Regions from separate parts of the Homo sapiens genome. Here region 1 is linked to region 2. Evidence: fine-mapped expression QTL. A gene starts in region 2. The other region holds a variant in brackets. All regions are shown on one strand. Distances are from middle to middle. Region 1 overlaps ACSS3 (acyl-CoA synthetase short chain family member 3). Region 2 holds the start of LIN7A (lin-7 cell polarity scaffold A).

Evidence for each region. PIP is the estimated chance that this variant, and not a neighbour inherited with it, causes the effect. A credible set is the group of variants that fine-mapping cannot tell apart.
Region 1: its variant is the best candidate, but not a certain one, in a credible set for the expression of LIN7A in neural progenitor cells (Aygun 2021, PIP 0.85).

The regions. Positions count from the first base shown.
Region 1 is chr12:81,093,645-81,099,033 of GRCh38, reverse strand. The region is part of intron 1 of ACSS3 (acyl-CoA synthetase short chain family member 3); the gene reads right to left. ACSS3-AS1 (ACSS3 antisense RNA 1) reads left to right here. Exons shown (of 5, transcript XR_007063390.1): 5 at 4,302-5,236. Among named protein-coding and RNA genes, the nearest start is that of ACSS3, 18 kb to the right of the region's middle. RefSeq lists an enhancer at 3,029-3,530. The variant T/C (reference allele first, on the strand shown) is at 3,099.
Region 2 is chr12:80,935,138-80,940,526 of GRCh38, reverse strand. It overlaps LIN7A (lin-7 cell polarity scaffold A), which reads left to right and starts at 2,593. Exons shown (of 6, transcript NM_004664.4): 1 at 2,593-2,886. The coding sequence starts at 2,805. It overlaps MIR618 (microRNA 618), which reads left to right and starts at 4,694; the gene lies at 4,694-4,791. RefSeq lists a silencer at 3,256-3,465.

The DNA.
Region 1 (5,389 bases), 160 kb before region 2:
ATTTAATACATTTCATAATAATTTTCTATTGATTGGACCAGAGACTGTGAAGGAAGGGGAAACATTATAACTGGGAACATGTTCTCCACTCTCAAAACGAAGACTGGTTTGCAATAACTATGATAAGATGCAAAATGTGGCAAATTTCCTGACAGAGGTACAAACTAAGCATGATGAAAGCACATAATAAGAAAGAGATTAATTCTAAACTAGGGAATGTGGTAAGGAGCTGATGGATGTGAAAAGGAATGTAGTACAATGTTAAGGCCTGAGCTTTGAGGCCAACAGACTAGAGTTCGAATCTTAGCCATGTCATTTGCTAGTTATTTAAATGACTGCAGACAAATTAACATGTTTAAGACTTTCTTTTTTCATCTATAAACCTTAGGGAAAAATTTTAAAGAATTGTATCAAGACAATGCTATGAGCATTTAACACAAATTAACTCACTTAATCTTCATGAGGACTCTGTGAGGTAAATACAGTAGGTCTTCATTTAACATCATCAATAGGATTTTGGAAATGGAGACTTTAAGCAAAATGACATACAAGGAAACTAATTTCACCACAGGCTAATTGATATAAACAAGTGTTAAGTTCCTAGGGCATATTTCTGGTCACAAAAACATCATCAAATTTCTAAATAAGGACCCAAAACACTTCTAATAGTAAACACTGAAATAAATATGAGCTATCCATACATTTAAAAAAGATAAATAACAACCACTAAGAGCATTATTTACCCAATTATTCAGCTCAGGGTTGTGGGCGGCTGGAGCCTATCTCAGCAACTCAGGGGACAGGGCAGGAACCAGCCCCAGACAGGACACCATCCTATCGCAGGGCACAGTCTCACACACACACACACACACACACACACACTCTCTCTCTCTCTCTCTCTCTCATACTGGGACCATTTAGATATGCCAATTCACCTTATGTGCACATCTTTAGGATGTGAAAGGAAACCAGAGTACCCGGAATAATCCCACCCATACATGGGTAGAACATGCAAACAACACACACAGACAGTGGCGCTGCCCAAGAATTGTTCTTTTTTTTTTCCACTTCAATATTACAACAAAACAAAGTTGAACAAAATGCCGTTATTCAAGGACCTACTACATCCAATAATCCTCATTTTACATATGAGGAAACTGAGGTAGAGACAAGTTTCCTACCTGAGGTCCACACACAATGAGTGACACACTGGTATTAGTGTTAGTTGGGCTCTGAGTCTCAACTATTCTGTGTTAATGTGTTAATGTGAGAATGTTCATGCCTTCCACGATCGTAATTTTATACACATTTCATTAGCTCCTTTCAATAACCACATCAGACAATTACTATTATTACACACATTAACAGATGAGCAGACTGGCTAAAGTGAGTTAGGAGGGCATAGCTCTATGGTCACAGGTAGAATGGGCAGGAGCAGGACACAAGTGGAGGGTGATCATTTATAGTGTTTTGAAACAATGAAGTGTGTTGTGATAACAAAGATGGAAGCAGGGAGGTGTTTGAGAAATATGGAATACTGTAAAGGAAAATTTTAGAGGCAAACAGGAAAAGAGTAAGGAAAACGAATACAAAAGAAACCAAAGTTTTAGGGCCGGGGTCAGCAAACTACAACTCACATGTCAAACTGGTCCACTATGTGTTTGTGCAAAGAAAACATTATTGGAACATATAACTGATTTATGTGTATTCTCTGTGGCTGTTCTTGCTCTACAACAGCAGAACTGAGAGATTGCAATGGAACTGGTCTGGCCTGCAAAGCCAAAAATATTCAATCTGGTCCTGAAAAGAAAAGCATTCCCACTCCCTTCTCTAGAGCAGCTCTGTCTAGTAATTTCTGTGACAATGGAAATGTTCTATGTCTCTGCTGCTCAGTAGGGTAACGACTAGCCACATGTGTCTAACTAAATTTAAATTTAAATTAACTAAAATACAATAAAATTTAAAATTTAGTTTCTCCACCACAGTAGCCATCATATGAGTGCTCAATAGCCACACTTGGCTAATGCAACTGAGAAACTGATTTTTAAAGTTTAATTAAATTAAACAACTTTAAATTTCTACCATAAAGACACATGTACACATATGTTCACTGCAGCACTTTTCACAATAGAAAAGACTTGGAACCAACCCAAATGTCCATCAGTGATAGACTGGATAAAGAAAATGTGGCACATATACACCATGGAATACCATGCAGCCATAAAAAAGGATGAGTTCATGTCCTTTGCAGGGACATGGATGAAGCTGGAAACCATCATTCTCAGCAACTAACACAGGAACAGAAAACCAAACACCACATGTTCTCACTCATAAGTGGAAGTAGAACAATGAGAACATATGGGCACAGGGAGGGGAACATCACGCACTGGGGCCTGTCAGGGGGTGGGGGGCAAGGGGAGGGATAGCGTTAGGAGAAATACCTAATGTAGATGACCGGTTGATCGGTGCAGCAAACCACATGGCACATGTATACCTATGTAACAAGCCTGCATTTTCTGTGCATGTATCCCAGAACTTAAAGTATAATAATAACAAAAGAAGAAAAAGAAAATGGTACAAGTGCATGTCCGCTTTTAAGTATCCATGTTTTTTTGTGTACTTTTGTGTCCTCCCAGACTCTCTGCTTTCTGTAGGCAGGGACCACATGCTAGTTCATTAATGGCACACAACAAATGCTCAATGATTATTTTAAAATAAAAGCTTGTAAGTGTGAATAAATGTGAAATGTAATATACTCTCCTGACACATTCTCCTTACAAATTCTCTCCTGACACTTTCTCTTCTGACAAATAATAAAAAGACTCTTATAAGGTAAATAGTCAGTGCTCAGCAAAAACAATGACTAGCTCAAAAGACTACTGTTGCACAGAAACAGAGCAGGCTTTAAGTATTTTTAAGAGGGCAACATTTTGCTTTATTCACACAGTGATATCCCATCTGAATTACAGATACTTGGCCTTTGGGAAGTATCAACTGACTGTTCCAGGAAACTCTCCAAATTGGGTAATTGCTTACTTGGAACAGAATAATAGCCTTATGTTAATTTACCACTAGGGATATTGTTTTTGTGAAAGTAC[T/C]TGGAAAGCACATCTCTCCATAGCACAGATAATTATTTTAACAGAGAAACCTGATGTAAAGACAGAGGCATTCCTTAGTCCCACCGATCCTTCCTACATGAGTATGTATACTCAGAATCTGGCCCCATCACACCATCTCTAGCCAGATTGTCCCATCTCGACATGAAAGGACAACATAGACATCTTCCGCCTTGCCAGATCATCTCGGATTAAAGCTAGGTGAATTGCCAGTGGTGAGAAATGCAGCCCACAGGAAAAAGAATAGAAAGAAAAGCTTTCAGGAAATCAATGCCTGTTATCTGAACTGAATCCACTGTCAGTGAAAAGACATGAATGAATGATCTTAAAGATTCTCCGGTTGTGAGTCATGCCTGACAGTAAATTCAAAGACGTTAAGGATACATTTTATCTTGTTTATTTGTATTCTAGAGGAAAATGCAGGAAAAACCAATAAGTTAAGTAAAAGGACATAGGATTTGGTTTAATCTAAAAAGGTAGAAAATGTAAAATGATAATTAGATTAATATTAAGGTTCAAAGTAAAAGATAAAAACATTTAGGTTTCAAAGCATAAGTATATTAAATTCAAATACAGTGCTAATAACATAAACTTAAAAGTAGAGTTTTTAAAGGAAAGCATGCTTCATCAGTCAGTCCTTTTCATAACACTTTAGGGACTCTCTTAGGAACAGTGGTCCCCAGTCAACCAATTCAGAAATGTCATGATGAGCTGGCAAAGAACCAAACTCCAAATGAGAGCAGGTTCCTAGAAACCAGACCTACAATCCAGAATGCCCCCAGGGCCACAAGTGGGTAACTTTGAAGAAACCTCAGAGTTATCCAGAGAACCAGGAGGGAGTGGAATGGAGGGTGTACTCTGCCTAATGACAGCTAGTATTTGTTGGAAAAAACAGAAGCATGTATTCCTGATGATAACAATAATGAAATGATGAACAAAGAAGGAAATGAGGAGAAGGAGAAGAAAGAGAAAGAGCAGCAGCAGCACGATGCAGGGGAGGAGGACCCCAACTAGCTGACCTGGTGTTAATGTTGCTCTGGTTAAGGAGAAATGGGAGGAAGACAGGAGAGCAATAGACAAGGATTGAAATTAATGTTTTCTAAACCTGAGAACTTTAGGACTATACATTTTTTCATTTTTTCATATTACATCTTTATCTTAACTATCCATTTCTTTCTCTTTCAGCTTATAACTCATGCAAAACAACATGCTGCAATGTTCTGATGAAATGCTCCTCTACAGTCGAGGCTCCCAGAAGGCAGAGAGCATATTCATTAACTCATTCTGCTCAACACTTAGCTCATGTCCATGGAGAGATGTTGAATATGAGCTCCTATTAAAAAGAGGGAATACAATCAATCATTTGAGAATGTCCAAAAAGAACTTTTCCTTTCCATCGAGCCTTACAAATTATTCTAAGATTGTTTCTGTAAATACCATGTAATTGGGAGAGATACACAGGGAGCGTCAATTGTGTCTGTAATGTTTTACTGCTTATGATAAAAAGATCTGAAACTAATGTGACAAAATACTAAGATTTCACAGAATTCAGTGTTGAGTGTCCTCTAAGTTATTATCTTTATTCTTCAAATATTTCATAAGGAAAAAGATGGTGGGAACTTACAATATTTATTATTTTTTTGGAGAATGGCTGGATAATATACATTGAAATCTGCTAAGAATTTACCAGAAGGAAGGAAAGAGAAACACACACACACACACACACACACACAGAGAGAGAGACAGAGAGAGAGAGAGAGGAAAAAAAAATATATCCTTGGAATGCCAAGCCCAAAGATGCAAGTCTATCTGCCGATTTATAAAAGCAAATAAAGAGAAACCATCTAAATGCCAATATGAAAGGATTAGGAAATATTTATATATTCACCCAATATGTTAAATATTCTGTATACATTAAAAATAATGAATTAGAAAAATGGAAAAAACACTTCTTACAAGTGAAAAAAAATGAGCTACCAAATAATATGGATGGATAGTACAATTCCATTTCTCTATAAGAACAGAAATAGAGATCCAGGGAGTCAAACAGATTGACAGACATAGATTCTTGATTTTTTAAAGGCATAACATCTACACATAAAATATAAATAAATAAGTGCAAAAACTGGTGAATCTGAATAAGACCTATAGCTTAGTTCATTGCATTATGCCAATGACAATTTTGATTTTAATAATGTACTATAGTTATGTAAGATGTTATTACTGGGGGAAGCTGGATTATGGATACAAATGAACTCTTTGCATTATTTTTG
Region 2 (5,389 bases):
GTGTAGTGATTTTGTAACCAAATAGCTAAGATAAAAGCATAATTACAAATATTTTAACAATTCTCAGGTAAATACACAGCAAAGCAACTGGCATGTGACTAGATCAAGTATATCCCTGCATGTCTCAAAACGAAATTCACAAATATTATTGGAGAGATAGTATTTATTCATAAAAACAAATTCTAATGGATAATGAATTTTTATTAATTTTCTACACCTGTGTAGACATAAGCTAAAGGGAATGAACTTTCCACTACTAAAAATAATAACAGATGAATTTATGGTGATTTATGCTTCCTTTTAATTTCTCTTTTAATCTTGATTTAAAAACAACAACAACCCTACAGAGTCAACACAGAGAAAGAATGACAGAGCAAATTTCAAATAGGAAGCTCAAGGCAGAAGTCCAGAAATATGCTATGAAATGTTTAGTCCTGAGGATGCATTAGGAAACAAAAAGACAAAGAAAACTCTACCTTCACTGACACCACAATCAGGGATTTGTGTTGGAATGGGTACAATTTATGACTTTTGGGCTGATGAATCAAGCTGCTTAAATACATATTCCCTAATAAAGGATGTTGTAAAATAACTACATTAGAAGTCAAGGGATTTGTATGTTCTTTTATCCTCAGTTACCGAGTGAGGTTTAATAACTTTGTGCAAAAGCTTGTAACACACTCTGGTATCATTGCGCTCATCTCAACTTCTTTCTGTTGCTTAATTCAGGGCATGTGAATAACGGTAAAAAACCAAAGTTGTTTTTGCAACCTCTGGCCACCGAGGGCACTTCCTTTTAATAGTGCTTAGAGTACTGCACAGAAGCTTATGGTTTGCTCACTGTCTCCCAAGCAAGACTGGGCAGAAAGGGGGCCATCTCATTAATCTTTGCATGGTTAGCACCTAGCACAGAGCTTACCACACGGTTCCAGGGGATGTATGCTTGTATAAATAAATTTGTATATTCTTTACTGTTTTCAAAGCACAGTCACATGTATGACTCCATTAGACCCTCATAAAACTCTGTGAGATTGCAAGGTAGAATTAGTTTCCTCATATGACAGATCTCTGTGACATTGAATGATATTATTTCCATTGTATGACAGAGGAGGAAACAGGATCAGTGAGAGATTGTGTGACTTCCGAAGAGTACATGACTAAGACTCAAATGTCAAGATCAGCATTCTTTCTTAAATACTAAATAAAAATAAACATATCGAACTACTATTTTAGGTTTGTTCTTAGGGTCTGTTAAGTCTATATATGGCCAATCATCTTTGGCTTTCCCACATTGGTGAAATGTTGTTTTTTAAAATTCAATTGTAGACTATAAAATGAAAAAGACCTTCAGAAATCCTATCTGTAATCAGAAGAAAATGGCATCAATTATATGCAAATATTTTGCTATAAAACAGTATCTGCCTTTTAGAGTTTATTGTTAGCCCAAACAATTCAGCTCTGTCACAGGAAACAAGATGGAGGCAGCTTTGTCATTTCCAATCCTGCACCCACAGTCACCCCTATTCAGCTTATAGAAGGTTTCTTTATGTTTCTTGATTTCGTAGTCAGGAAATGAATCCCTACTATGACAAGATAGTGAAAGTAGCCTTTTTATTGGGGCGAAGAGGTCACAGCCAGTATTTGAAGGCTCTCGTAATTTAATCCTGATCAACTGACTCTAAAGTCAGGTTTTTAATAACACCATCTCCCACTAGATTACAGGCTACAGGAAGTCGGAGACTAAATTGAACTCCTAAATCAAGGCGTGGCACAAGGCAATGTAACTCTTCTATCTCAATTCCTGGCATATATGTTAATCAATCGATAAGTGGCATCTCTGAACCACTGGTTAGAAATCAACATGAAAAGTGCTAGGTACATATTTTTCAAACGTAGTCATAGACAACCAAAATCAGTTTGGACATTAAGAGCAAAGTTTTTGTTGCTGGGTGGGTGAGGGGGAGTGGGGCATGTTTACAGGATGTGGTATGTAAAAAATTCGGAGAAAATCTGAACACTGTACTTGTTTCTAAGCTACATTTACTGAATTGGTAATGTATTAACAGTGGCTTGAAAAAGAAAAACTTAGCGATAGAAACTTACCTACACGTTTTTTATTTTGAAGCACTTTTAAGAGGTTTGCCTTTTTTTTTTTTTTTCTCCAGGCAATATACTCAGGTCCTAAATGAACATCTACTGATGGAACGCTGGCCTTTAGTCAGTTATCTTTATATGCCGTTATAGGTCAACATTCCGAAAAACTTCAACAGAAATTAACTGCAAATGTAATTACATCCCAAACATTTCTGATAATGGAAGCATTTTCTCTCTAAAGGGGATGGGATTATTGGATTGGCAATTTCTCTTAATCTGAGAAAACTCATCTCCCACTCCCTTCCCCATATCCCCTTTCCATCCTCTCTCTTCCCCTTATACACACACGCACCCGCATGCACACACGTATATTCTGACCATTTTATTAGAGTGGAAAGTTGAAAGGAAGCAACCCGCCAGCTACACCCACCCAGCGCTCCTGGGGGTGGAATAGCAAAGTTCTAGGGCAGAGCCTTCCCTCCCAGAGCCCGGCGATGCAGTCGCTCTCGGATACCTGCTCAGCTCCGCACCGCAACTGAAGATCTGCCGCCGCGGAACAGTTGCGTCTCCATCTGGCTACCAACCCACCCAAGCTTTCTTCTCCACCACCACCACCTTCCTTCCTTCCCCCTCCTCCCCCTCCTTTCCGTCTTCCCTCTCCACCCCCGCCCCCAATCTCCTCCTTTTTTTCTCACTACGAGCGGTTGCTGATGCTGAAGCCGAGCGTCACTTCGGCTCCCACGGCAGACATGGCGACATTGACAGTGGTCCAGCCGCTCACCCTGGACAGAGGTAAGGGAGCGGCTCGCTCGCCAGGCCACCGCGTCCCCTCTCCCCTCCTCCCTTCCCCGCCTGCCAATTCCCAACGGGACATGGGACGCGCTCAGGCAGGAGGAGAAGGGGAACGAGGACGAGCCAGGAAGGCGTTCGCGCCGAGAACAGAACACTTTCTTCCCCTTTCTCTCCCCGCTACGTTCCCGCTGCCCCTTCCCACTGTACTCGCCCCGCCGAGGGGACGCCTCCTTCTGGCTCTGGGGTCCCCGCTGCCACTCCCAGCCCCTCGCCGGGTCGTCTCCGGTCCTCTGGCTTTGTTGGAGCCGCTGCGCGGGGACGGCTATAGGCGCCAGGGGCTCGGGGTTGGAGAGGGGCAGAGAGCAAGCTCGCCCGGCCAGAGCCCAGAGGAGACCGGCGAGGGAGCCGCCTGTCAGCTTGCTTGGCGCAGGGGCCCGGGAGGAAGGAAGTTTGTCCAGGCGCCGGAGGGCGAGGGTCGGTCCAACTGCTGGAGTCCCGGCGGCCACTCGGGGGGCGGGCTGGGCGCACCCCTGGGCTGCCGGGCGCACAGTGGCGGGGCTGCAGCAGGCAGGGAGCTGCCCTCTGCCGAAAGGGCAAGGCAGAGCGCGGGGAGCCGAGCCCCAGCAGCCGAGATCGGCTCTCCGCGGCTTCGAGATCGAAAGCGGCGAGGGTCGCGTCTGCTCCCGCCGCCGGCAGCTCCCGGTCGATAGCAACTCTCGGCTTCTCCCGCGCCAGCCTCTCGTGTCCTCTCCCAGCTCGGTGCCACCGCGGCGCCCAGGCTGCGGAAGGCGCGGGGACAAAGCGCAGGTCGGGTTAAAATTCAACTTCTGACCTGCCACCCAGTGAGTCCTGCTCTCTGACTTGAACGGGGAAAGTGTTCGCTTCCTCCCCAGGACGCCCTCACAAGCTCAGGGATGGAGTCCTCCGCTGCGATCGGGGCCTCACTGGTGCACCCCTGTGGGGTTATACCTGTCCCTGAGTGTGTGGGTTTCCTTCCTGGCTCCAGCGTCCAGTGATGAAGGCGCTCGAGTCCTACGGCTCTGCAGAGGAGGACACCCTCTAGTCCCTCTCCGCAGCCGCCGGATTTAGGACCCTGGGCGGCCATTTGGAAATGGTGTACTCAGAAGAAAATGATTTAGTCCGATGTACCTCTAAAAATTTTCTTTCTAGAGGATTAAACTGAACGATGGGCAAGGCAAAAGAACATCCTGCTGAGAGTACAGTAACAAAGCCAGTGAACTCAGTTTGAGGTTTTTAATTTGGAGAGACTGTGGGTGACTTTAACGCAATCTGTTGGCGCCAGAACAGATGTTCTGTGGTGCCCATAGCAACCTTTCTTAGGGTAAGAGTTGAAAAATAAAATGTAATTGATTTTATATTAGAAAATGTTGATTTGTAAGCTGGCAAAATTAATAACAGTAGTTAAAGACCTCAGAAATCCATTGTATAATCCATGATTTTACCCACAATATCATCATCTGCACTAAGCAGGATAAATCCATTGCCGGTAAGAACCAAACAGATGGCAAGCTATCAGAAACTATGAGCTTCCCAAGTATTTATGTTTTAATGTAATGAGCTCTTATATTGTCCCATTACAAAATCACAGTCGTTAAACATCCCAAATCAAGTGACTATGTTAGGAGCAAAAACTCCAAGAAGATTGCATACCTGGGTCATTTTATATACTACCACTACTACTAATAATACAAATATTTCAATGTTGGGTTTTACCTTAGCCCTTAGATGCCTCAGTCGGTTGATGAGAGGAGGTGCTAATCGGACTAAGATTTATTTTTAAAGTTTGCTCTTGTTCACAGCCAAACTCTACTTGTCCTTCTGAGTGTAATTACGTACATGCAGTAGCTCAGGAGACAAGCAGGTTTACCCTGTGGATGAGTCTGAAAAAATTCATCAGCAGCTCATGGAAAATCTATAACCAAGAGATGATGGGTTATTGGCATCACCACTGAGCATAAAGTCAATATATATAAATATTGTTCTCCGTATCTTATTCAAATATGATTAATTACTTTCATTATTAAACTGATGAAGGAAAAGGTTCTAAAAATTTCCCTTCAAAAAAGGTGCATTTTTAAAGAGGCAACCCAGTATTACATATCTGGGTCCTAGCTGCAACTCTGATACTCACTCTGCATACATCAGCCTCTCTGGACATCAGATTCTCTCTGTGCCACATCAGGAGTTTGAATTAGATGATTCTAACACTGTGCAGCTTTAGCAGTCTATAATTCAATTAATTAGAGTTAGGACTCAGTTTTTGGTCACCTACTGGGAGATTTTCCAGATCACCTCTCTCCCAGGCTGCTTTGGTACCCTTTGATGCGCTCTAAATTGACTTGCTGCTTTGGCCCCATTAAAGCATTTATCACACTCTGTTGCATTTGTCTATCCCTATTGGATAGAACTCCGTGAGGGAAGAGACCATTTCTAAATTCATCTTTGAATTCTCAGTGTCTGCTATAGTCCCTGACTCACAGTA